Regions from separate parts of the Homo sapiens genome. Here all the other regions are linked to region 1. The links come from fine-mapping of genetic effects on gene expression. A gene starts in region 1. Each other region holds a variant in brackets. All regions are shown on one strand. Distances are between the middles of the regions.

Evidence for each region. PIP is the estimated chance that this variant, and not a neighbour inherited with it, causes the effect.
Region 2: its variant is the best candidate, but not a certain one, in a credible set for the expression of LINC01237 in whole blood (TOPMed, PIP 0.90).
Region 3: its variant is the best candidate, but not a certain one, in a credible set for the expression of LINC01237 in monocytes after R848 (Quach 2016, PIP 0.83).

What each region holds. Positions count from the first base shown.
Region 1 is chr2:241,878,197-241,883,416 of GRCh38, forward strand. It overlaps LINC01237 (long intergenic non-protein coding RNA 1237), which reads left to right and starts at 3,167. Exons shown (of 4, transcript NR_110220.1): 1 at 3,167-3,282; 2 at 4,364-4,439. It overlaps LOC105373978 (a long non-coding RNA gene), which reads right to left and starts at 3,131. Exons shown (of 3, transcript XR_924077.3): 1 at 2,919-3,131; 2 at 2,673-2,821; 3 at 838-1,080. RefSeq lists an enhancer at 2,597-3,187.
Region 2 is chr2:241,905,310-241,910,529 of GRCh38, forward strand. All of the region lies in intron 2 of LINC01237 (long intergenic non-protein coding RNA 1237), which reads left to right. Among named protein-coding and RNA genes, the nearest start is that of FAM240C, 7.5 kb to the left of the region's middle. The variant A/C (reference allele first, on the strand shown) is at 2,332.
Region 3 is chr2:241,982,409-241,987,628 of GRCh38, forward strand. The region is part of intron 3 of LINC01237 (long intergenic non-protein coding RNA 1237); the gene reads left to right. Among named protein-coding and RNA genes, the nearest start is that of LINC01238, 14 kb to the left of the region's middle. RefSeq lists an enhancer at 2,598-3,134. The variant T/C (reference allele first, on the strand shown) is at 1,999.

The DNA.
Region 1 (5,220 bases):
GAAGAGCAGACCTTGTTGTCGAGGGAGGCCTGGGAGGGCGTGGATCTCTGGGGCCGCTCCCTTGCCCTCATTGCTGTTGAACTGCTTCTCGGCTTAATCAGATGAGTTGTTAAAACTACCCATCATCAGCATTGTTACCATTGGTTTCATTAGTAATTGTATTTATTTAATTAATTGTTACATTCACTAGTAAAAATGGGAGCTAAGGCAATGCGTGCACTCACCGCTGTGAAGGCAAATGCGGTACTGTGAGTGCTGAATGCACCGCCATGGTCGCGGGAAAGCCCAGGCACAGACACTAGCTCAAAAGCCAAGGGTAGGCCTGGGGTTCACATGCCAAGCAGCAAGCTGAACTCTCACCCTGAGCCCACACCTGAGCCCTCATCTGAGGCTGCACCTGAGCCCACACCTGAGCTCTCATCTGAGGCTGCACCTGAGCCCACACCTGAGCCCTCATCTGAGGTTGCACCTGAGCCCTCCCCTGAGCTCTCGTCTGAGGCTGCACCTGAGCCCACACCTGAGCTCTCGTCTGAGGCTGCACCTGATCCCACACCTGAGCTCTCGTCTGAGGCTGCACCTGAGCCCACACCTGAGCTCTCATCTGAGGTTGCACCTGGGCCCACACTGGAACTTTAACCTGAGCTTACACCTGAGGCTGCACCTAAGCCCTCACCCGAGACTACACCTGAGGCTGCACCTGGGCCCACACCTGAATCCACACTGGAACTTTAACCTGAGCCTACATCTGAGCTCTTGCCTGAGTCTCCTATATGGTTGGAGTGGCCAGGTTGGGCCTAATTAAATATGAGGTAGCAGTAACGACTTTAGGCAACTGAGTTATTAGTAGAGATATTTAATATCAAAGTCAAAGAAGATGAAGGGCAGACACATTTTTAATGTAATTGCTATTAGTTCAGCCAAAGTTGAGGGGACTCAAAGTGTGAATACTTTTCTGACTTAAGGTACATTTCCTAGTGATGGGGGTCAGCTCATCCAGGGTCACATGTGGTTCCTGCTGAAACCAAGTCTGGGGTTCCCTGGGAGGGTCTGGCGAGAACTCTGACAGCAGCTCCCATCACCCTGTGGTGGATAAAGCGAATGCCTCTCTAAGTGTCTGGGGGTGGGGTAGGGTCTGTGCTGATTTATGTAGCTACCTGTTGCAGGGTTGGGTTAGGATCAGGTTGGTTACCCTGGACCCTGGGTATTCAGGTGGACAGGCGGGCCTTGGCCTTGGACAATGGCTAGCTAGGGTGGGCTAGAGCTGCTTCACCCGCAGCTTTGGCGAGGGGAGCGGGAGGCCAGGGAAGTCCCCAGGAGGAGTGGCCACGCTGTGATCCGGGCCCCGGGCTGGCTGGTAGGTGGAGGGTCACACCACCTGGGCCTCAGTGAGGTCCTAGCTGGAGCAGAGGTTCGGGGATCTCCTTCCCTTTCCTTCTGGGGCCTGGGACTTTGTACCTCTGTACAGGAGAGGCAGCAGAGGGCTGGGGTCCTGGCGATGCCTCCACTCTGCCTCCCAGCCTTTGGGGAATGTCTCCACCTGTTATGGCAAGTGTCCCTGTTTGCCTGGGACTTTGGGGGCTAAATTGGAGGCCTTTCTCTTTTTCCCCAAGTTCTCCAGCACACTTAGAAGCATCCGCCCACCCAGCTACACCCCTAAATTTTTCCCTTGATGCCCAGGGCCAGGCATCCTATGGCCATTTGATTACAGATGTCTGCAGGTGGCAATCTGAGTGCCTGTATGCTACTCCTGTGGGCAGCTAGCACCCTGGTACCCCTGGGAACAGAGCGTGAATGCCTTTAAAGCTAGTTGGAGCAGAGAACCAATTCCAGACACCCAGAGACATTTAGATAACTCATTACTAGGGTCCTGGCCCTGGGATCACTCCCAGGACTAGTTCTGTGTCTGTCCAGGTGTGATCCAGGAGTGCAGTGACGGATGTGGATGTGGGATTGGCACAGGACTTCCGCCAGCAGAAGAAAGGAAGGGAGGGGAGGGGAAGAGAGGGCAGGGGAGCAGAGCGGAGGAGAGAGGGGAGCAGTCTTTCCAGCTGGGGCTGGCCTAGGCTGCTGGGTCATTTGGGAAGAAAAGGTGATTTGGACTCAGGGAGACTGAGGGTGCCCTCGGGCCAGCATCTGAGGAGAGTGACAGGGGTTTCCTGGCTCCACAGCCCCAGGTGGCCTTGGTGGGTGCAGGCAGAAAATGACCTTTTCAAGTCCAGTTCCAACCCAGAGGGGGTTCCTAGACCCAGCGCCAATCAAGGGGCACCAGGGAGGCAGCAGAGGTTCCCGCAAATCCAGAGCAGAGTGGCTGCCAGACACCCCACATCCTCTTCGCAGCAGACTGAAGGCCACCCCACACTTGGAGGAGCCCGGGTGAAGCATCTGGGGAAGACCCTCAGCCCTGGGAGAGTCCCTCCAGGGGTGAGCAGGTGGGCTGCCCCTCAGGGTGCGGCTCATTTCGATGTAAGTTTTATAAAATAAGAAAAGGCGCCCTATAGCACCCCTTTGGGAGCCTCGTGTCACCTCCAAACATATACCTCGCTTCCAGGTCAGAAGTAGTGAAATGACCATTGCCAATGCAAATGGAACTGCCTTAGGACACATGGGGGAGGTTAGGGCCTGCTGTGGGGCCTTATGGTGGGCCCCGAGGGGCCCCGCACACCTGTGCTCACCTCCCAGGTCATCGCTGGGCCGCCTCTGTCCCCTGGGAGGCTCTGCCTCGGGGAGCCCTCTTCCCAAGCTCCCAGCAATGACTTCCAGGCCTCCCTCAGCATCAAGAGGAGCCACGTCTTCTTCTTGTGACCCAGCAGTATAATTCACCCTAAATAATGGCAGAATGGGTTGTGTGTAGTCTTTAAAAGTCAAAACAATTTTGCACACAACAGGAGTCATTCAGCAGTGGCTAACACTCTCCTGACCTGTGTCGGCGCTGGGCTCCAAGGTGTACCTCCGCACGCATGGGGTTAACTACGCCCCCATGACCATTCCCTGCAGGAGGGGCGGGACAGAGGACTGCGTTATGTTTCTCCTAAAAGAAAATCATGAAAGTCACACACTCCAGGTGCCACACTTATTATGGAGGGAGGGAAAGCAGATGAGCGGGCGGGAAAACTAGCGGGCTTGCCACGCCCAGGCAGCGCTGCTCGGGTTTCCGCTTCCTCCGCCCCTTCCTTTTTCTCTGTGCATCCTCAGTGACGCGGGGCACAGCTCTGCCCGGGGGCCTACCAGAGCCCACCTGGACCCCACACTGGGTCAGCCCTGGTGCGGAGGAGGCCGCTGTAGGTGGGCACGGGGCAGCACGCGTTAAGGGGCTGGACGGGGGGTGGCCATGCGTGTGAGGGCGCTGAGCAGGGGCGTGCCCATACGTGTGAGGGGGCTGGGTAGGGGCGTGGCCCAGCGTGTGTGTGTGTGTGTGTGTGTGTGTGTGTGTGTGTGTGTGTGTGTGGCTGGACAGGGGTGTGGCCACGCGCGAGGGGGCCGTGCAGGGGGCGTGGCCACGAGCGAGGAGACTAAGGGGCGTGGTCACGCGTGTGAGGGGCTGGGCTAGAGGAGTGGCCCTGTGTGCGGGGGCTGGACGGGGGCGTGGTCATGTGCGAGGAGGCTGAACAGGGGGCGTGACCACGTGTGGAAGGGGGCTGATCGGAGGTGTGGCCACATGTAAGGGGGCTGGGCAGGGGGTGTGGCCACGTGTGAGGGGGGGCTGGGCCGGGGCGTGGCCACACGTGTGCTGGCTCTGCTGTGGGCTTCCTTCCCTTCCTGTGCAGGTGGTGGTGCCCTCTGCGCCTTCACTGGGGCCCAGCCAAGTAACTGAATCCAGCCAGGAGCAAGGGCAGACGCTGGCACAGGTCCTGCCACTGTCCCCAACCTGGGTTTCAACACAGCTGAGGCCTGGCATAGTCTTTCTGGGCGCCTCTGGCTGGCTCGGTCTGAAAGGTGGGACAGATGCAACTGGGGCCTCCCCGGGTGCAGCGTGGGTGGCTCCTGGCTGGGGAAGTGAGAAGCCCTCCGTGCGGTGTCTCTGAAGCAGCCCCAGGCCAAGGCTGTGGCGTGCTTGGTGGTGCTGTAGGCCCAAGATGTTTATGGGTCGAGGGTCCCCGGGGCCGGGATTCTGATCCCTGGTGAGAGGTGGCTGGGAGGAAGTCCAGACGTGTCCTGAGTGGCCATTCCTCACACTGAGGTGACACCGCCTCTCCAAACACGTGACGTGGCTGGAAGCAGATGCTGCTGTCCGGTTCTCCCTCCTCTCCGTCCCTGGCTGGGACATGTGGATCTCACCCGCAGCCACTTTCTTCTGGCCTCTGTCCCCCTGCCTGGGACACGTGGACCTCACCCCCAGTCTCCTTCTCTCCTCTGCCCCCCGCAGGCGCGGCCAGGTCACAGTCGGCACCAGAAGTTTGGCAGATCTCAGTGAGGCGTTAGTTTGCATTTCCTTGTGACGGGTGAGTTGAACACCCTTTCATGAGTGTATTGATCACTGTGTACCTTCTTTGTTGAAATGTCGTCAGTATTTAAAGTCACAAATCTTCCTCTAAGACTATGCTACAATTTTTGTGTAATATTTTGATGGATATTTGAAATAAGTGCTAATTTTCTTTGGATTTCTTCTTTGACCCATGCTTTATTTAGAAGAATCTCTTTATGTGTGTATTTATTTTTTAAACCCTCTATTCTGAGAAGCATATTTAGAAGAGTATTGCCCACTTTCCAAATATGTGGAGAGTCTAAAAGGAATCTTGCTATTACTGATTTAATTCCATTTTGATCAAGGAACAAACTGCAGGATCTCACTTTTTAAAATTACAGAGACTTATTCTTACTGTTTAACATAAGCCCTATCTTTGTAAATGCTCCGTATACACTCAAAAATTACTTGTGTTCTGCAGCTGTGGGGTGGGATGCTCGCCAAGAGTTAATGAGGTGCAGCTGGTTGACAGTGCTCTTTAAACCGGCGAATCCTTCCTGTCCCACCCGCTGTGCTTGCAGTCCCGAGAGAGCTGTTACATCTCCAACTAGGACAGTGAATTTCTCTATTCTTTCAGTTCCGTCCGTTTTTACTTCGTGTTTTTTGAAACTGTTATTATCTTTTTAGGCATTTAGGATTTTTCTGTGATCCTGACAGTGGCTGACCATGGTGTCATCATGGAATGTCCCTCTTTATCTTCAGGGGTGCTACCTGGTCTAATGTGAGTGTTCCAGGGCTATTTTCTTATGCACAGAATT
Region 2 (5,220 bases), 27 kb after region 1:
GTGTGCACAGGTGTGTGTGCAGGGCTGTGGGTGTGCGCACACCTGCGTGTTTAATCATAATACAAAGTGGGCCGGGAACCTCACCCTGAAGTGTGAAGGGCAGTGCGTCATTTAGAATCCTTCTCTTTTTCTCCTTCTTGAGCAGCTGAACGTTGAGAGGGGCCCCGTCTGGTGTGGCCGTGTCTGGTCCCCCATGCAGGCCCTGCACCGTGGACTCCCAACCTGCGGGGATCCGTCCCCAAAGACGCCACTAGTTCTGCCAGCCCAGGGTTTCCTGAGTGTTTCCCGAGAGGCCCTGGTTGCACGGAGTAAGTTCTAGTTTAGTCCTGGTTCGTTCTCCCCAAACGTCTCTCAGGAGCTGTGTTTCTTCTTCATGACCTTCCCCTTAGACCTGTGTCAGATCAGGGTTAGAGGTTGGTCTCCTGGCCTGTGTGGCCACCCTGGCGCCCTCGACGCTCTGCCATGGGCTCCCTTTCTTTCATCGGAGGCAGCATCTGGCCATAGTGAAACTGAGTGTGGGGAGGGGGACGCAGAGCTCCCAGGTCCCAGCCCACAGGTGCCTCGGTGGTGAAATCCCCTGACACACTGAGTGGGGCTTCCAGGACGGGGGACGGAAGGAAAAGGATTAAGGGGTTAGGTAAGTGCAAATATGGCTTTGAAGGTTTAAAATCCTTCACTCATGTTGTGAGGGAAGAACAGGTACTAGACTAGAAGCCATGTCTGGTTGCCCTTGAGGGACCCCTCAGCCAATGTGAAGACGTGTCCAGGCAGCCCTGGGAGACATCCCTGTGGGGGGGCCAGTGCAGGAAACGGACCGCCGGGGGAAGCTCCTGTCATCCCAGGGTGGGCCAGGCTGGGACTACAGTCATGTGCACAGCATGGCTGAGATAATGAGCAAGACTCCAAGGTCCACCCAGGGGCCCGATGGCCTTTAGGGAGACCTAGCACTGTTGCAGGATCAGGAGGACCGGAGAGAGACCTTGGAGTGTACACAGGAGGATATCTTTATCATTGAGTGCACTCAGACCCAGCAGACTCAATGTCCAAAGACTGGGCCCAGAACAAAGACAGCGCCTGACTTTTACACACACTTCACAAAAGGGGGTGGGCTAGCTTGAAGCAAGCTTACAGTGGCGTGAAAGCAGGGATACAGAGGCAGGACAAACTCAGGATTGCACATGACTGTTGCCAAGCAACCCACATGTCCGTTATCTAGGTTAACCTGGGCACGGGCTTATCCCATAACCTTCACTATGTTGCCCAGGTGGCCGTAACTCAGGCCTGCTCAGAGGCTCATGACCTTCACTTTACTGCTTAGATAAAACAATGCTTGAAGTCAATAGTTACAGAGAACAGGAATTTATAAACTCATTCCATAAAACAAAGGAAAATTTGTTTTTCTTCTCCCTATATTGAGGGAGTGCTGGGAGAGTCTCCAGAGCACATTAGATAATATTATTATTAAGACTTTTCCTGGGTTTGGGCTGTGCTTGTTGCTGCCTCTAGGACAAGTTAGCCTAATACGGGAAAGCTTATTTCTCTTTCTTTTTAATTTTATTTTTCTTTAATTTCCCACCTCAACACGACCTGAACGTGGCTTAGTCTGCTGCTGGTGTTTGTGGAGGGCTGAATAGTGTCCTTAGGAAATATGTTCAAGCCCTAACCTGTGAACACAGACATTTTTGGAAATGGGTTATTGCAGATGTTATGCATTAGGATGACCTCATGATGGATTAGGGTGGGCCCTAAATCCAATGACCAGCATGCTTTTAAGAAGGGGAAATGTGTGCACAGACACACAGGGAAGGTACGGTGAAGCCGGAGGGAGAGAAGAAGGGACGCGTCTACACTCCAAGTGCAGAGAGAAAAGGTTCAGGGTTGAGGCTCCTGAAACAAGACGGATTCACCAGAGAAAAGCGAACAAATGTATTTTAGTTTTATGTGACTTGGAGCCTTCGTAAGGAAATGAAGACCCAGAGCCAGGTGGACCTGTGTGTTTGTGCTTTGGCTTGATGAAGAGGGGATGGCCGTGGGGAAACGTGGATGAGGACGGGAGGCTGTGATGTGATGGGTGAACTGGGCACCTCAGCACGGCCTGTGTGCCCGGGGGAGAGGGGATAGGTGAGCAGGGAAATGACTGTGTTGACTATACACAGCCACCACCTAAACCTCAGTGTTTGCTTTGTAATTGAGCTCACGCAAGCAAAGCTATCTCCAGCGGGGACTCTCTTCTAAAGAGCACGCACACTTTAATTTTTACCTGTCCTCGAACCAACCCTTTGTTCATTATAACAGTGAAAAAGATACCCCTGGGTGGAGATGTAAGATGCT[A/C]ATGAGACACACCACCTACAAACAAGCATGTGTGCCGACGACCACCAGACTGTGCTTCCTGATAACACCTCTCCCACTTTCTTTTTTTTTTAAGGTGGGGTCTAGATCTATCCCCAGTCTGGAGTGCAGTGGTGAGATCTCAGCTCACCACAGCCTCTGCCTCCCAGGTTCAAGCGATTCTCCTGCCTCAGCCTCCTGAGTAGCTGGGATTATAGGCATGCGCCACCATGCCCAGCTAATTTTGTATTTTTTTTTAGTAGAGACGAGGTTTCTCCATGTTGGTCAGGCTGGTCTTGAACTCCCGACCTCAGATGATCCACTCGCCTTGGCCTCCCAAAGTGCTGAGATTACAGGCATGAGCCCCCATGCCCGGCTACCTCTCCCATCTTCTTATGGATCATCGGGTGAGACTCCCATAAAGGCAGCCTCCCTATGGCCGGTCTCTGCTGTCTCACCCTCATGACCCACCCTGAGTCCTTTCTCCCTTAGGGTGGCCTGTCTATTCTGCACCTCACTTTCAAAATACTCTTTTTTTTTTTTTTAAAGACAGAGTTTTGCTCTTGTTGCCCAGGCTGGAGTGCAGTGGTATGATCTTGGCTCCCTGCAACCTCTGCCTCCCGGATTTGAGTGATTCTCCCGCCTCAGCCTCCCAAGTAGCTGGGATTACAGGCGCTTGCTACCATGCTTGGCTAATTTTTCTATTTTTATTAGAGATGGGGTTTCACCATATTGGCCAGGCTGGTCTCAAACTCCTGACCTCAAGTAATCCGCCCACCTCGGCCTCCTAAAATGCTAGGATTACAGGCGTGAGCCCCTGCAAAATACTTTTCTTCTTTTGCAATAAGTTACTCTGTGCTGCACTTCTTTTGCAGTGTGTCTCTTGTTTAAATTCTTTTGAACTGAGAAGACGAGAACTGTCATCACGTCAGCTGTCAACACCAGTTCTCTGTGTCCTGTATCTTCAGAGAGAAGGGCGTGTCTTTTCCCCGGGTTTCGGGAGGGCGTCTCACATCAGGGTCTTGGGGACCTGCTGTAGGGGAGAAGGCTGAGGGGAGGTGAGAGAGACCTTCCTGCTTCTGCTGTTTTCACAGTGCCAAGGTGCCATACTTTGGGGTAGCGTGTCCCGAACCCCATCAAAAGCAACACAGAGGGTTGCTGGGGCATGGCCGGGAGCAGATTCCCTTTCACATCTCCGCAGGAACTGACCCTGCCGATGCCTGACCTCAGACTTCCGGTCCCCAGGCTGTCAGACAGATTTCTGTTTTGCTTAGTCGGGCAGACGCTAGGCTCTGTCCCCTACGGTGGCACCATTGGTGCCGCTCATCGGTTCTTTTCAGGCGGCACAAAGTCCTGCACACGTGTGGGCCAGGTCTCCAGGAGATCTAGGCAGAGTGAAATGCAGATTTTGGGGTCCCCTCTGGCTCTGTCCTTTCCAGGAACTCCTCTTTCCTCCCTGGCTGCCACAGTCACCCCGTTGCTCTCTGGGTCCTCATGCCGGAGGGACGGTGGTTTCCTACCCGAGGCTTTGCTCCCCTGCGTGGGCCAGCTGCTCTCGAGTGGAATGCCTTACAAAAGGAAATCTGCCTGGCGCCACGGCTTTCCTCCGAGTACGGACGCCTGTTCAGTCTCTTTCTGCTTCCGGCTGTGCCCGGTACCTTCTGGTGGTTGGTGCCTGTATCTGTCCAGGGGATGTAGGTGGTGTGTTGGACTGACATGAGCTGCTTTGCCATGACTGGAAATGGAGCCTCAGTGTTACTGGAAAAAGGGTCTCAATCAAGACCCCAAGAGAGGGCTTTGGATCTCTCGTGGGAAGAAATTCCAGGCGAGTTGCAGAGTGCAGTGAGAGAAGGAAGTTTATTGAAAACTACTTCATTGCAGATAGGGCACCCTCAGAAAGCAAGAGAAGCAACGCCCCAGCTTTAGGTTTTTCTTATATAGGGGTCTCGTCTGTGGAAAGACCAAGCCAAGCTGTGCCTACATGTAGGTGAGCAGAGAGCATGATATTTTCTTATTCTATGTAAGGAAAACTGTCCTTGACATTTTCGTGTGTGAGTCCATCAAAGCATAACTGGAATGATCTTAACAGCACACATTGCTGGGGTTCTGGACGTCTGGACTCTGTTGTTGGAGGAGTGTGTTTTTGCAGGCGTCACCAAGCTGCCTCTTTAGCTGTGAACATCTTAGGACCGGGGGTCATGACTGTGTCCGGCGAGTGGATTTTAAAATGGTGTGATTCTGGCTCTCCTGGGCTCCTGCCTTCCTAACACCAGGACCTTTCTTTTGATAAGAGGACGTTGCCCTTGCCCTCTCCGGGTCACTGTGAGGACGGGGGTGGACGGAGCTGAGTGCCCAGCAGAGACTTGTCAGAACACGTGGCCTGAAACTCAGCATATGGCCGCCAATTTTGAGCCAATTTTGACCCAAAGCACTTTTGCAAGGAATTGTGTCCTGGAACCTGGTGGCCTGGTTAGGGTTGGCCTGGCCCCTGGTTCTCCCTCTGTGAAGCGGGGATCGAGGGAGCTCAGGGGTTGTGTGTTCAGCACAGAAGCAGGGCCTTGCCTGCAGGAATGCCAGGCTTTATTGCTTTAATTATGATTGTCGATCTAGAAAATAGCACATACAGTGTCGTATCAGTTCTCTCAGGGGTCCCAGAAAAAATGGGTTCTGGGACCAGGTGAGAACCTATTTCTCTCTAACTCTATATTTGTCAAATGTATTTGATAACAGAATGCATCTCTATTTTTGTGAAAATCCAATTAATATCCTGAGACAGATGCCCTGAAAAATGTCTTTGTAAATAGTCTGAGTATTGACAGCATTCTAAATAATCTGGGTTTCATCCATGCAAAAATCAGACACCACCCACTCCAGACGGCCAGCACCTCCCGC
Region 3 (5,220 bases), 100 kb after region 1:
AGGTGGAGGAAGGCCCCCAGAGAAGTCTGCTGAAAATTGTTATTCATGAATGGAGGTTGGACTTCTTCAGATACACTTCCCGAGTCTGTTAACATGGTGATGTGACGTTTGCCCTTCATGTTACTCATAGGGACTATTCTGTTAGCTACCAATTCTGCTGCTTTAAATAAAAACACCATTAAAAAACAAAAAGAAACAAATTGTAATAAAATATTTGCATACATATAAAATCTGAAAGACATATATCAAAATATAAAGGTCCTTCCTTTACAAATCAATAAATATACCTTTTTAAAAAAACAGACAAGACAGACATTAGACAAAAGGTGATACAAGAATGACCAATAAGCAAATTGAAAGCACTCAGTATCCTCGGCCATCAGGAAATGCACATTCATCATAATGGGATGCTGTGTGACGCACGTTGAAATAACTGGATGTGAAGATCCTGGCCCCACCCTGTGCCGGGAGGGTCTGGAACATCTGGAATATTCACGTCGCCGGCGGGGAGGAGGTGCACAGGCACAGGCACTTTGACCATAGCATGGCAGGTCCCCCACAACTATATGTACACCTGCCCTGTGCCCAGCAAAATGTAAATGTCTTCCACAAATAGTCCTGGACAGGGTCTCTCAAAGGGGCTTTAACTGTAACAGCCCACACCTGGAATTGTCCACAGTCCTGGGCGGGGTCACTCATAGTAACAGCCCACACCTGGAATTGTCCACAGTCCTGGGCGGGGTCGCTCACAGTAACAGCCCACACCTGGAATTGTCCACAGTCCTGGGCGGGGTCACTCACAGTAACAGGCCACACCTGGAATTGTCCAGCATTCCTCAACAGGAAACAGTTAAAGAAAGTGTGTCTAACCACACATGGAAGGCCACTGGGCAATGAAAATGCATGAACTTCTGGCGTCCACAATCTAGTGGATGAATCTCAAAAGATACTTCGAGCAAAAACACCGGACAGAAGCGTCCGTGCCAGCCCCGCAGGCTGCCTGTGTGCCAGGCTATCCCGTGCCATCTGATCCGGGAGAAGCAGGACTTTCTTGCACAGGTACTCAGCGCTGTGGCTGTGGGAGGAGCCGGGAGGGCCCTGGCGTGGGTGGGCTTGGGGAAACTGTAGGAGCTGGAAATATTTCATATCTTATTTGGGGTGTTGTTTACAGGGGAACTTGACAAACTCATCTAATGGTACAATCGAGACATCTGTGTAAATAAAGTGTCAAAAATCATCCTGCTGACATCCATGCTCCCCGCCCCACGGCACTTCCCGGCCCTCAGCCCTCCCGTGCGGCTCCTGCCCCCTGGCCAGGGCATCTCCCAGACCAGCGCTAGGCAGCAGGCACTGTCCTAACCCCAGAGCCTGTGGGCCTGGGGCATCAGTGAGGAGGAGGCTGAGGACTGATGGTTTGCAGGTTGCTCCGGGAGACCAGAAACCTGGTGAGGAGAGGCATTAGGAGGTGAGGTAGGAGGCGTTACGAAGGCCCCCGAAAGCTGCCTGTTTGTTTGGTTTTAGTGGGGAGATAGTTTTCCAGTACAGAATTTCTACCAGAGTGCCCCATACATAAAACATAACAATGACATGAGATGCTTTGGGGCAGCCTTGGGGTGGATGGGACCTGTGTCCCCCTCTGCAGTCCTCACAGGCGCCCCACGTGTGGGTCTCACGCTGAGATGCACCGAGCCAGCTGGAAAATGCCGGGTCAGGGGGCTGCTCAGGGGCGGCTTCTCTTTAGGTAAAGTCAGTGAATCCCGATGGCCAAGTGCGAGGCATCGGGGAGATCGCAGAAAGGGTCGAGGGACTCAGGCCCAAGCCTGGGGTGACAAAATCTTATAAGTGGAATCATAGAGTATGTAAGATGGCGTGTGTGTGTGTGTGTGTGTGAGAGAGAGAGAGACAGAGAGGAGAGAGGGGGTCTTGGTAACCTTTAGGTCACATTTGGCAGTTTAAACATAAACCTGCTTCCAAATTAACTGGCTTTGGAGACGTCTG[T/C]GACTCGTGGGCACACCCTGCCCCTGAGTGGAGAATCTCACCATCAGCTTCTCCGGCTGTTGACGCACTGATCGGCACCCACTGACACTGAAAGGATGCCGATTTGTTTCTGAACCGTGAAATGTTGATCTGATTCTGTGTCATGACATTCTGCTGACTTGCTTCTGAATCACGAAGCTTTGCTGGTTTGTTTCGGAATCATGAAGCTTTCTGATTGCCTTGCATGGAGACGTTTTAGCCCTCACGGTATGATCTGTGTGCACTGGCTGTGCCCTCCAACCTGTCCCCCCATGAGAAGGATGCCTCTGTTGTGAGGAGTCCCCTCCCTTCTCCTAAACTTTTCCAGAAAGTCTTCCACCTAGTAGCCGACCCCAGAACATGCTCAGTTCTGTGGGCGTCTTCCCAAGTGGATCCCCATGTTCAGCTTCCAATAAAACTTTATCCAGTCACTTCTGCCTGCACAGCCTTAGTTTCCATCAGAAGTCTACACGTGTGTATGTGTATAGACACACACACACACACGTGCACACGTGCACACACATGCACGTTTTGTGTCTGGCTATTTTCACTTACAATTTTTTTTTTTGTCAGCCTAACAGGTGAATCTGATTTTGATTCTTTAGATGCTGCCTAAGGAAGTTGAAGAAAAAAATTCCTTTTTTTGTAGTAGCTGGATCTGTATCCAAAATTTAACGTATTGTAGCTCTCCTGCTGTGCCAGGCTCAGTTTGTTTTAAAGATTTCCCAGAGGGGACGACTCAGAAAGAGGCTCTGAGGGTGTGGCATCCTCTGCACACTTTGGGTGCCACCAGCTGACGTGTGACTGTGACTTCACGGGTGGTGCCCCGGCCTCATATGCTTCGTGGTTCTCTGTCTCACTCCTGCTCACGGGCGATGCCCTGGCCTCACGTGCCTCGTGGTTCTCTGTCTCACTCCTGCTCACGGGCGGTGCCCCGGCCTCACGTGCCCCGTGGTTCTCTGTCTCTCTCCTGCTCACAGGAAGTGCCCCGGCCTCACGTGCCCCGTGGTTCTCTGTCTCGCTCCTGCTCATGGGCAGTGCCCCGGCCTCACGTGCCCCGTGGTTCTCTGTCTCTCTCCTGCTCACAGGAAGTGCCCCGGCCTCACGTGCCCCGTGGTTCTCTGTCTCTCTCCTGCTCATGGGCAGTGCCCCGGCCTCACGTGCCCCGTGGTTCTCTGTCTCTCTCCTGCTCACAGGCGGTGCCCTGGCCTCACGTGCCCCGTGGTGCTCTGTCTCGCTCCTGCTCATGGGCAGTGCCCCGGCCTCACGTGCCCCGTGGTTCTCTGTCTCTCTCCTGCTCACGGGCGATGCCCTGGCCTCACGTGCCCCGTGGTTCTCTGTCTCTCTGCTGCTCATGGGCAGTGCCCCGGCCTCACGTGCCCCGTGGTTCTCTGTCTCTCTCCTGCTCACAGGCGGTGCCCTGGCCTCACGTGGCCCGTGGTGCTCTGTCTCGCTCCTGCTCACCTGCCGGGCTTTCGTCTCTGCCCAGGGATGAAACCATCATGTGGCTTAATTGATATTTTGTGAAAGCTGCAAATTATGTGTGCAGTCCTGTCAATAATTCCTATTGGCTGACTTTCTCTCTTCTCCAATATTCTACAACCATATGTACAGTCAAAGCTGTCCACCTTTTACATTCATGATTGATGCTCCATAAATATGCTGGCTAGATAAAGCCGCAGCTGTTAGGCAAAGGAAAGAAAGACACATTTATCTGAGACCCAAGGCAGCTGTCAAGCAGTGGGAATGGCCCTGAAGGCCATAAAGAACCCAGAATGACTGACCGGGATCCGGGTGGACAGGAGCGGGGGGGTGGACTCTGACCCCACCCACCCCCACACCTCCTATCCTTGCACTGTTCCGGGGATGAAGTGGATTTTGGGAGCTGGGCATGGGGCACAAACTCTCTCTAACAGCTGTGGTGGAACCAGGGCTCACTGCAAACCCCCTTTCCTGTTGGGACGCCTCATGGGCTGGACCCCATGAGGGCTCTTCAGAAAGGTGAGAACACGCAGTAAGACCTTTCTCCAAAGTTACCAAAGATGACAGCAACCCACGGTTAGCACAATTTTATAAAGACTGAAAACTTGCTGAGCCTGTGTAGTTAATAAGTGGAGACACAAGGCAAAATCCAATGATAAGCAAGTGAAGATCCATCGTTATGCGATGAACAGTATTTCCATGAAGTTCTGCTTAGTGAGAATAGAGATCACATGCTCCCTTCCATTTTTCAAACATTATTTCTTGTTCTTGCGGTCTGGAAGAAAATGACTGAAAGATTACTTTGTTTCTCTTTGATTCACTTTAAAAGATGTGGGAAAGGGAACGCGAGCTGCCCAGCTGCCCGGGAGACCAGGTTACCTTCCTTTACCCCGGAAGGCAGCCTGCCCTGCTACAGCATTGCCTCATGCTCCGATCACCACACACATCAATGGCAGGAGGAGAGGGTCAGGATAACTCGGGACGGACTCCTCCCAGGAGCTCCCTGGGCGAAGGCGGTCCCATCGGGGAAGCGGGATTCCCTCCTCCAGTAGGGAAGAAGCACCCTCAGCAAGGAGACTGCCGAGGCGTGGGGACGCTCTGCTCTGCGTTTGTGGAAACCAGGCACTCGCCTGGCACAGGGTCTCGCACCCCGGTCTCGGTGCAGCCTTGTGTGGTTCTGGTGCTTGGGAGGGCGTGTTCCCCACGTGCCTACTGAGGAGCCGCTCCCTGGCTCAGGGCTCCTCCTCCACCCAACACCAGCATCTCCACATGGTCAGGTGCGGTTTTAAAAGCCGCGTTCTCAAGATATTCTTCACGTATCATGACATGTGCACAGGCAGAGTGCCAATCAAGTCCTTTCAGAGTACTCGGAGATCCAGTCACTGCGTTGGGTGTACTCGGAGATCCAGTTGCTGTGTTGGGTGTACTCGGAGATCCGGTCGATGGCGTTGGGTGTACTCGGAGATCCAGTCGGTGGCGTTGGGTGTACTCGGAGATCCAGTCGGTGGTGTTGGGTGTACTCAGAGATCCAGTTGATGGCATTCATTGTACTCGGAGATCCAGTCGATGGCGTTGGGTGTACTTGGAGATCCAGTCGGTGGCGTTGGGTGTACTTGGAGATCCGGATTGATGCTGAATATAGGGGGTCAGGAAGATGCAGTTCCTGACCGCTGGGTGTGGTCCCCGGAACAGCCAGGCTGCGCTGGGTGCTGAGGCCACTGC